Regions from separate parts of the Homo sapiens genome. Here region 1 is linked to region 2. Evidence: fine-mapped expression QTL. Tissue or cell type: whole blood. Region 2 holds a variant in brackets; the other region holds the start of a gene. All regions are shown on one strand. Distances are from middle to middle. Region 1 holds the start of SEPTIN4 (septin 4). Region 2 overlaps TRIM37 (tripartite motif containing 37).

Region 1 (5,378 bases), 510 kb before region 2:
TCTGTCATGCTCATAGGGCTGGAGTATATTTTGGGCCACAATGCTCACAGCAAGAAGTCCCTGCTGCCAAGATTTACTCCTTGAGGTCTTGTCCCCACCCTCCCCTGCCCCCAGAGAGGCCAAGAGTATAAAGGGAGAGGAGGGTCACAAGGCCTGGGGACACTTCTCTTAAGGATTCTAGAGCTGCAAGACACACTGATGGCCTCAAGGGGGAGGCCCAGACATCTCTGAAGATCTTGCCTGGGCAGCACCAATAAGTACCCCAGGTGGTAAACTTGGGGCATGAGGAGGGTTCTGAGGAACCAGAGAAACACATGAGAAGAGCCCCCAGCCTGAATTAGCGTGAAGTCAACTCTGAGCAAGACTGTGAAGCAGGCGGTTTGCTTTGGTGTATTTTTTAAAATCATGTGATAGATGACCAACTAAGCTGAAAAGGCCATGAGGCTTAAATTATTCTCCATTCCAGAAGTAACTTCCTGTTAAAAGGAGACTCTTGAAAATGGAAAAGGTTCCAAGCCCCAAAGAAATGACTCTAATGGTGAAATTTTCAGCAAGATGAGAAGTTCCTCTGCTTCTTCAGGTCAAAATCCCAGCATTTATCTCCTAAACGACCCAGCTCTGTAGATACATAGATGCCACTCCTCACCTGTCCTCCCATCCCCCAAGCTCCCACAGTGGGCCCATAGGAGGGAAAAGCACAGACCTTTTAGCCACCAGATGACACGATTGTACATTTCCTCAGAGACATCTGAAAGTAACAGAGAGATGGTTGCTTTTCTTCTCTCTGTGGGATGCACATCCCACTCTCCACTACTTGCAGCTCCCTTTCTAGCTCCACATTTCTCCACTCAAAGGTGCCCTCAGCCCTTGGTCCTCTCCAAGAAGCTCCTCCAGCCTAGGACTATATATCGTATTCCCACTCTCCCTTTCTCTTTTTTACACCCTCTCTCTGTGCCACTGTGAATGCCTTTCCCCTCCTGGAATCCCAGCTCATCTGCATCCCACCCTCTCCACTTTGTAGCCAGAGTATTTACCTGAGGCCCTTATTCTATTTAACAGCCCTTGCCAGCCCTCACCCCAGCTCAGTTCTTCATCCCCACTCAGGAAGCAGCTTTCAACCCTGCAAGCCCCTCTCTACTACCTTCAATTAAAAAGGTAAGCAGTGTTGCCTGGAGGAGTCAATGCCTGTCGCCCGGCCCAAGCATCCATCATCAATGTCATTAGCTTGGAGCACAGAGAAGCTGGCAGGGAAGGAATGGAGCAATAGGCTCAAGGATAGGACTAGCTTTGGCACTGGCAGGAGAGCAGCCCTTAGGCCCAGAATGAAGAGGTGGTCTTTCCTGCCCACCCCAACATCCCATCTCACTAAATTGGGGCTGCACCTGGGCAGTCTGCTTCTTCACATACCCAGGAAGAAAGCAGTAAACCTTTGAATGGGTTGTTTGCAGGTGTGCTTGGGGGTCTGTGGCACTTCACTCAGTGGTGCCCAACTTGGAAACTCCTTTGGTGGTGATGGTGGTGATAGGCTTGCCTTCTCTCTCTGGAACTTCAGATCCTCACAGAAAGGGCTAGAGTCTATTTTAAAACCGGACAATAAAAGATCTAGGGAAGGAGAGCACTTAGGCTCAAAATCCGGTGTTGTCAGCTGGCTTTGGGGTGTTTCAACTTCAGGATTCAGCAAGGGCCACCATGAGGAGTCAGGTCCGTACCTAGGTAAGGACCGAGGAGGCAAGGGCCTAGGGGTCAGTTCCAGTTCTGCATGGATGGAGGGCTTTTGCGAGAGTTCTGGATACCTGGGTGTAGGTCCTTGGGACATGTAAGTAATTTCTGGGGGTTTTTGGGTTTGCTGTTTATAGATGGGCTCTGGAGTAACAAACATGGATGACTTGTGGGAGCCCTCAGACACTGATGGAACTGTCACATGGTGAGTTGGCTCTACTGACTGTACCCCTGGGGAGATGGTGACCCTGCGGCCAACCTCGCTGTTTCCTCGGATTGGGGTCCTCACGTTGGACTCCACCTGTGATGATACTAAGACCTTTGCGGAGGGCTTGGTTTCAGGATAGGCAGAATACTTATGAAGAGACTCAGGGTCTACCCGTGCAGAAACTCGGTGTACACCATCAGAATCTTTAAGGACAGAGAGTTTGAGCAATGAGTCCAAGTTCATATTCCTATACAAGGCCTTGGGTTTTGAAGGAATTGGACCGTAAGGACCTGTTTCTGATTCTTCTACAGGGACCCTTCTCTGGGCTGTCTGATAGTCTGCAGAGACACAGCTGCTTCCGTGCTCTAGGAGAGAGGGACTCCTTGGAGATCTGATCTCACTAGTAGTCGTAATTCTTTGGATGGGCTCAGTTTGTACTGCTTCATCCTTTGGGTAAGACAAAATCCTACGGGGAACTCTGACTCCTTGGGGGTTCTGGACCTTGGATGGTGGGTCATCTTCTAAGATTTGTGATTGTAAGTTATTCTTCTGGTCTTGAAAACTCAACTGATGAGTAGATTTGGCATCTGGGATTGATGAAGCATGATGGCCGACCTCGCGCCCTGACTTGCTCTCACTGCCTCTTCGTGCTGCTTCCTCTCTGGGTGGACTAACTTTCCATTGTCTGCTTGAAGCATGGGAAGCCAGTGTCTGAGTCTTCTGGCTCTTTAGATGGGGAGAGGAATGGCGGGATGATTCTGTTCTTGGTCCAGTCTCGGGTCCCCGAGGAGTGGGTACTGCATAGTGTCCAGGTCCTGACTGGAGGGAGACAGATCGAGGGTAGTCTGATGCTGAATGGGGAGTGGTGGGATGTGCAGCTTCTGATCTTCGGTGGGAAGGGTTCAGGGAGACTGCAGCACTTCGATGGCTTGAGGCAAGAACGTACCCATGTCCCTGCTGAGGGGATGTGTTAGTAGTAACCTCAGACCCTCTCTGTGCTGAAACCGCTACCTTGGCCCCAGGTTTATTTGTCTTGACCATCTGATAGATTGTGCCCTTCTGAGTAGATCCCGTATTTTACTGGCTGGCTTGTATTCAGGATCCTAATGATGCCTGAATATTTACCCTGTTTTAAAGCTGCTGTTTCTTGGGCTCCCACAAAAGTGGCTGTTGTTCTAAGAGTGTCTCAAATAATCCCCTTAGCTACCTCTCTGTCTGGTGATGTCATAAAGGAAGGAGCTTCCTTCCTATTAAACATCCTAGTGTACAGCCACAATTCTTCACAGAATCCCAAAGAAGTACCTGAAAGGAATCTGTGGATTTGTCTTTGGAGTTATATCACCAAGCCTTTGGCAAGTTTTTAACAAAACTGGGATTTCCTTGTACATAGAGAAGGCTCCAGACCCTCCTTTACTCTCCCGAGATTCTAGAAATTCTCAGGACTCATCCAGAGAAGGAATCAGCCAGAAGATCCTATGAAGACAAGATCAAACCAAACACGCTGTGTTCGCCCCAGTTTTAATAAGGTACGAAGTACAAAGTTGCCCCAATTTTGTTTGAAACTGTACTGTATACAAGTTAAAAAAAAAAAAAAAAAGAGAGCTTCAGCTTTTTCCAGGTCTCATGGATTGTTTCATTGCTCCTGGGGTAAAAATCCAGGTTGCTCAAATAATAAAATTCTCACATTCTTGCTCCAGGAGAGTTTAGTGTTTTATTAATAAAAGGGATTTGCCATGTGCGGTGGCTCACGCCTGTAATCCCAGCACTTTGGGAGACCGAGGCGGGTGGATTGCCTGAGGTCAGGAGTTTGAGGCCAGCATGGCCAGCATGATAAAACCCCGTCTTTACTAAAAATACAAAAAAATTAGCCAGGCATAGTGGCAGGCACCTATAATCCCAGCTACTCAGGAGGCTGAGGCAGGAGAATCGCTTGAACCCGGGAGTTGGAGGTTGCAGTGAGCTGAGATTGTGCCACTTTACTCCAGCCTGGGTGACAAGAGCAAAACTCCATCTCAAAAAATATATATAAATAAAAACAAAATAAAAGGGATTTGGGCTGGGTGCAGTGGCTCACACCTGTAATCCCAGCACTTTGGGAGGCTGAGGCGGGTGGATCACCTGAGGTCAGGAGTTTGAGACCAGCCTGGCCAACATGGTGAAACCCCATCTCTACTAAAAATACAAATATTAGCCAGGCGTGGTGGTGCGTGCCTGTAATCCCAGCTACCCGTGAGGCTGAGGCACGAGAATCGCTGGAACCTGGGAGGCGGAGGCTGCAGTGAGCTGAGATCGTGCCACTGCACTCCAGGCTGGGTGACAGAGCAAGACTCCATCTCAAAAAAAAAAAAAAAAAAGAAAGAAAGAAAGAAAGAAGGAATTTGGAGTTAATCATTGGTTTCCATCATAAATGACTACAGGTGTACCTAGGAGAAATTACCTGCCTTCCCTGGGACTTGGTTTCTTCACCTGGAAACCACTGCCTGGTACATGGGTGTCACACAACAAATGTTAATGTCCTTTCTCATGATCCTGTCAGCTATCCAATCAGCCGGACTCCGGTTCTCTCTTGAAAAGTGACTTTCCAATTTGGATGACCATTTTGGAGGAGACTCTGTCACCTTTCTCTCCCTTTCACATGCTCTTTCTCTCATTCTCTCTTTTAGACATAGACTCTACCATATCCAAAATTCTATTATGAACTCTGAAGGGTCATTGAGATTATAGGATGGTCAGCTTCATTTTTCTTTTTTTTTTTTTATTTGAGATGGAGTTTCAAATAAACTGTGCCCAGGCTGTTGCCCAGGCTGCAGTGCAGTGGCGTGATCTTGGCTCACTGCAACCTCTGCCTCCCGGGTTCAAGTGATTCTCCTGCCTCAGCCTCCCGAGTAGCTGGGATTACAGGCGCATACCACCATGCCTAGCTGATTTTCTTTTTTTTAGTAGAGATGGGGTTTCACCATGTTAGTTAGGCTCGTGTCAAACTCCTGACCTCAGATAATCTACCCACCTCGGCTTCCTAAAGTGCTGGGATTACAGGTGTGAGCCACCGTGCCCAGCCAGTTTTAAGTATTTCTAAACCCTTTCTATTCCCCAAAATGAAAGCAGCTTTGGCTAGGTGTGGTGGCCCAGCCTGTAATCCCAACACTTTGGGAAACTGAGGTGGGCAGATCACTTTAGCTCAAGAGTTCGAGACCAGCCTGGGCAACATGGTGAGATCCCATCTCCAGCAAATAAATAAATAAATATTTTAAAAAATTAGAAAACAGTTTTACAAATAATTATAAAAAGTTGAAATCACCTAAGAGGACCCCGTTACTATTTTAATAAGCATCTTTCCACATTTCTTTCTATGCATTTACTATGTAGACATTTAATTATAAATTTACATAGTCTTATTATAAACTTCCCAGCATCCTAGTACTAGCATTATTCCATAACATGTTATGAATAC
Region 2 (5,378 bases):
AATCAAGGCTATAAGAAAATGGGTCTTTTATAGGTTGGTAAAATTGATGTTTGAATAATTTTGTAATTCTCTCTATGGCTGAAGCATGAAATAGCAATAAATTATTTCTCTTGGTGAATAGTTAAACCCCAAAAGTCTGAAAAGCTATACGAAGAAAACTAAAATAATCCCTCCCCTCAAAAAACATGATTCCAGGCACCGTGGCATGCACCTGTAATCCTACCTACTTGGGAAGTTGAGACAGGAGGATCACTTGAGCCCGAGAATTCTAGACTAGACTGGGCAATATAGCAAGACACTGACTCTAAACAAAACAAAACAATAACAAAAACATATCTTTTTCCCTACACTGAAAATCATATCCCTTGTTAAACTTCTTTATACTTCCAGAAAAGCTACGGAAAACACATAAGAGTAAATGCTGATATGATAGCAACTCATCTGTCCAGTATGCTCAAGAACAAAGAGCTCCGAATAAGGGAAATTCAGGAGTACATTAAATCACTCTCAAGAAAAAAATGTTTAAAATTGTTGTGATGAGAACTTTTTAAACTGTTAAATACTCTGAAACTTCTCAGTTCAGAACATATTTTAATCTTTTTTAAATATTCAAGTTCTTATTTTGATCATCAAATTATAACATCATGTAATGATACCCAAAAACCTTTTTTTGTTTGTTTTTTGTTTTTTTAAGATGGAGTTTCACTCTTGTCGCCCAGGCTGGAGTGCACTGGTGAAATCTCGGCTCACTGCAACATCTGCCTCCCGGACTCAAGCGATTCAACTGCCTCAGCTTCCCAAGTAGCTGGGATTACAAGTGCCTGCCACCATGCCCAGCTAATTTTTGTATTTTTAGTAGAGACAGGGTTTCACCATGTTGCCCAGGCTGATCTTGAACTCCTGACCTCAGGTGATCCACCCACCTCAGCCTCCCAAAGTGCTGGGATTACAGGCGTGAGCCACGGCACCCAGCCAATGCCCAAAAACTTCTGACCTGTAAAGACTACCCCACGTTAAACAGGGCTGTTGTTTTTATTTACTTTATTATTATTTTTGAGATAGGGTCTTGCTATGTCGCCCAGGCTGGGGTGCAGTGGCATAATCTCGGTTCACTGCAACCTCCACCTGCCGGATTCAAGCGATTCTCCTGCCTTGGCCTCCTGAGTAGCTGGGATTACAGGCGCGTGCCACCACAGCCCGGCTAATTTTTGTATTTTTAGTAGAGATAGGATTTCACCATATTGGCCAGGCTGCTCTCAAACTCCTGAGCCCAAGTGATCTGCCTGCCTCAGCCTCCCAAAGTGCTGGGATTACAGGCGTGAGCCACCACACCTGGCTAAATAGGGCTGTTGTTTGAGTCAGTATTTACGTTCTATCCTTTCTTGTAAATACTACACCAACAATCAACAATAAAAATTGATGGTTTTGGCCAGACGTGGTGGCTCATGCCTATAATCCCAGCACTATGGGAGGCCGAAGTGGGTGGATCACCTGAGGTCGGGAGTTAGAAACCAGCCTGATCAACACGGAGAAACCCCATCTCTACTAAAAGTACAAAATTAGCCAGGCATGGTGGCGCGTGCCTGCAATCCCATCTACTCGGGAGGCTGAGGCAGGAGAATCGCTTGAACCTGGGAGGCAAAGGTTGCAGGGAGCCAAGATCGCGCCATTGCGCTCCAGCCTGGGCAACTAGAAACTCTGTCTCAAAAAAAAAAAAAAAAAAAAAAAAAAATTGATGGTTTTCGCAAATACCACATGTTCTCACTTATTATTTAAGAGCTAAATGGGCCGGGCGCAGTGGCTCAGGCCTGTAATCCCAGCACTTTGGAGGCTGAGGCAGGAGGCTCAAGAGGTCAGGAGATCGAGACCATCCTGGCTAACACGGTGGAACCCCATCTCTACTAAAAATACAAAAACAAAATTAGCCAGATGCAGTGGCAGGCACCTGTAGTCCCAGCTACTTGGGAGGCTGAGGCAGGAGAATGGTGTGAACCCGGGAGGCAGAGCTTGCAGTGAGCCGATATGTCGCCTCTGGGCGACAGAGGGAGACTCCATCTCAAAAAAAAAAAAAAAAAAAAAAAAGCTAAATGATGAGAACTCAAGGATATAACGAGGGGTAACAACAACAGACACTGGGGCCTACTTGAGGGTGGAGGGTGGGAGGAGGGAGAGGATAAGAAAAAATAACTATTGGGTACTAGGCTTAGTATCTGGGTGATGAAATAATCCGTACACCAAATCACCATGATGTGAGTTTACCTGTATAACAAACCTACACATGTACCCCTGAACCTAAAATAAAAGTTTAAGAAAAAAGTAGAAAATTGCTGGTTTTCGTCAACTTTCATCTTGACTCTTCTACTTTTAATTTGCTGTTATTGACAAAGAACTGATAGTTGCTTTATAAAATTAAGTTGTAAAACCAGTCACTCAAATATAATATGCACTGTGAAGTGAAAAAAATCAGCACTTTATCCCTCACTATTCTTAGATTTCCAAATGGTGAGGTCACTAGAAGTTCAACAGACAAATGGAACATTACTATACTTACTGGAAGTTGTAGTTTCCCACCCACCCCCTTTTTTTTTTCTTTTTAAAAAGATGGGGGGTCTCATAATGTTTCCTAAGCTGGTCTCAAACTCCTGGGCCCAAGCCGTCCTCCCATCTTAGCCTCCATAGTAGATGGAAACACCGGCGCACCACTGCACCCAGCTTATCTTTAATGGAATTGCTAACTAGATGTCAAAAAAAGTTTGACTTTTTGACTACAAATTTTTGATTATTATCCACTTAAATAAAACAGTTAAGAAAGTGATAAGGGGCCGGGCACGGTGGCTCACGCCTGTAATCCCAGCACTTTGGGAGGCCGAGGCGGGCGGATCACGAGGTCAGGAGATCGAGACCATCCTGGCTAAAACAGTGAAACCCCGTCTCTACTAAAAATAGTAAAAAATTAGCCAGGCGTGGTGGCGGGCGCCTGTAGTCCCAGCTACTCGGGAGGCTGAGGCAGGAGAATGGCGTGAACCCGGGAGGCGGAGC[T/C]TGTAGTGAGCCGAGATCGCGCCAGGGCGACAGAGCGAGACTATGTCTCCAAAAAAAAAAAAAAAAAAAAAAAAAAAAAAAGGTGATAAGGTTATAGTTAGTATGAATTTCAATATTCATCTTTGTTAACCAAATGATCTTTGAAATATAGTTCTGATGATATTATTTCCCCACAATAAAAACCACAACATCAAATTTTTCCTGTTACCTTAAAATCACTGTATCATTTTGTGGATTCAAGTATCCTTCATTTGCGAGTAAGTCCAAACGGAAAAATCTATTATAGCCCCAGCATTCTCCAACTTCAAAGTCAGATGCAAATTCTCGAATGATATTTTTTGTAGGATCATTACAGGACTGGTGAACCATCTCTACACGATATTCATATCTAAAATTGAAAAACAGACCATTACTATACAGTTAGTAAAGTAAGAATAAAAAACAAACTCATCTAAACATTAAGGTCACTAAGTAATTACCTGAGAAGAAACCTTATTGATATACGCAGTTACATTTCTTTTATCATTTATAAAAACAGCAGTATTTTGGGGTTTTTTTATTTATTTAAGATGGAGTTTCACTCTTGTTGCCCAGGCTGGAGTGCAATGGTGCAATTTCAGCTCACTGCATCCTCTGACTCCAGGTTCAAGTGATTCTCCTGCCTCGGCCTACAGAGTAGCTGAGATTACAGGCGTGTACCATGCTTAGCTAATTTTGTATTTTTAGTGGAGACGGGGGTTCATGTTGGCCAGGCTGGTCTTGAACTCCTGACCTCAGGTGATCCACCCACCTTGGCCTCCCAGTGTGCTGGGATTGCAGGCGTGAGCCACCACACCCGGCCAGAAAAAGAGCAGTATTTTTTTGTTTGCTTTTTTGAGATAGAGTCTCACTCTGTAGCCCAGGCTAGAGGGCAGTGGCGGGGTCTCAGCTCACTGCAACCTCTGCCCCCCAGTTCAAGTGATTCTGCTGCCTCAGCCTCCCAAGTAGCTGAGATTACAAGTGCACACCACCATGCCCAGCTAATTTTTTGTATTTTTAGTAGAGACAGGGTTTCATAATGTTGGACAGGCTAGTATCAAACTCTTGACCTCAGATGATCCACCCTCCTTGACCTCCCAAAGGGCTGGGATTACGGGTGTGAGCCACTGCGCCCAGCCAAAACAGCAGTATTTTGAACGAACCACCAAAACATGAATGGCAATAGGTCCTTTTTTCCTCGTAAAGATGTTTACCGATATATCAGGTATAAAACAACACCTCAAAAAATAAATAAATTTTGAATAAACAAGTAATTCAAAGTTGCTTTTGTTTTACTAATGCAATATTTTTTCCATATATTCACTACATATGTTTCCTCATAAATATTGTTATTTCTATTATCCTTTGAGGTTTATCACCTTGCAATTTTAAAATATAAATTTTGAAATACTCTACTGTATTTTGCCAGTACAAGTGATAAGAAAGCAAATTATTGTGTATTCAGAAAATCAAAGGCTATAAAATTTCCTAATAGAAAATAAGTATGCAGCCATAAAAAAGAACGAGATTATGTTTTTTGTGCAACATGGATGGATGGAGCTGGAGGCTATTATCCTCAGCAAACTAACACAGGAACAGAAAACCAAATACCACGTGTTCTCACTTATATTGTGGGAGCTAAATGATGAGAACTTATGAACACAAAGAAGGAAACAACAGACACTGGGGTATGCTTGAGGGCAGAGGGTGGGAAAAAGGAGAGGAGCAGAAAAGATAACTATTGGGTACTGGGCTTAATTCCTGGGTGATGAAATAATCTGTACAATGAACCCCCATGACATGAGTTTACCTATGTAACAAACCTTCATACGTAACACCAAACCTAAAATAAAAGTTAAAAAGAAAAGAAAAAGGAAAAAGAAAATAAGTAAGCTGGACACAGTGGCTAACACCTGTAATCCCAGCACTTTAAGAGACCGAGGTGGGCAGATCGCCTGAGCCCAGGAGTCTGAGACCAGCCTGGGCAACATGGCGAAACCCCGTCTCCATAAAAACAAAAAACAAAAAAATTAGCTGGGTACGGTAGTGCATTCCTGTAGTCCCAGCTACTTGGGAGACTGAGGCAGGAGGATCACCTGGGCCCAGGAGGTTGAGGCTGCAGTGAGCCATAATTGTGCCACTGTGCTCCAGCCTCAGTGACACAGCAAGACCCTGTCTCAAAAAGAAAAGAAGTATACATTGGGAAAGCCAATATATTCTAATTTATATATCCAATCTTGTAAAATTTTCAGGTTTACAAAAAGACAAAGAAGATAGCCTATAAACTTTTGTGCATTAATGCACATTATCAAGAAAATGAA

The links. PIP is the estimated chance that this variant, and not a neighbour inherited with it, causes the effect. A credible set is the group of variants that fine-mapping cannot tell apart.
Region 1: SEPTIN4 starts here. The variant in region 2 is the best candidate, but not a certain one, in a credible set for the expression of SEPTIN4 in whole blood (TOPMed, PIP 0.53).

Annotation. Positions count from the first base shown.
Region 1 is chr17:58,541,219-58,546,596 of GRCh38, forward strand. It overlaps SEPTIN4 (septin 4), which reads right to left and starts at 3,110. Exons shown (of 14, transcript NM_001368771.2): 1 at 1,408-3,110; 2 at 704-748. The coding sequence starts at 2,968. It overlaps SEPTIN4-AS1 (SEPTIN4 antisense RNA 1), which reads left to right. Exons shown (of 5, transcript NR_110810.1): 3 at 2,239-2,380; 4 at 3,318-3,453.
Region 2 is chr17:59,053,628-59,059,005 of GRCh38, forward strand. It overlaps TRIM37 (tripartite motif containing 37), which reads right to left. Exons shown (of 24, transcript NM_015294.6): 13 at 3,248-3,427. Among named protein-coding and RNA genes, the nearest start is that of TRIM37, 51 kb to the right of the region's middle. The variant T/C (reference allele first, on the strand shown) is at 3,040.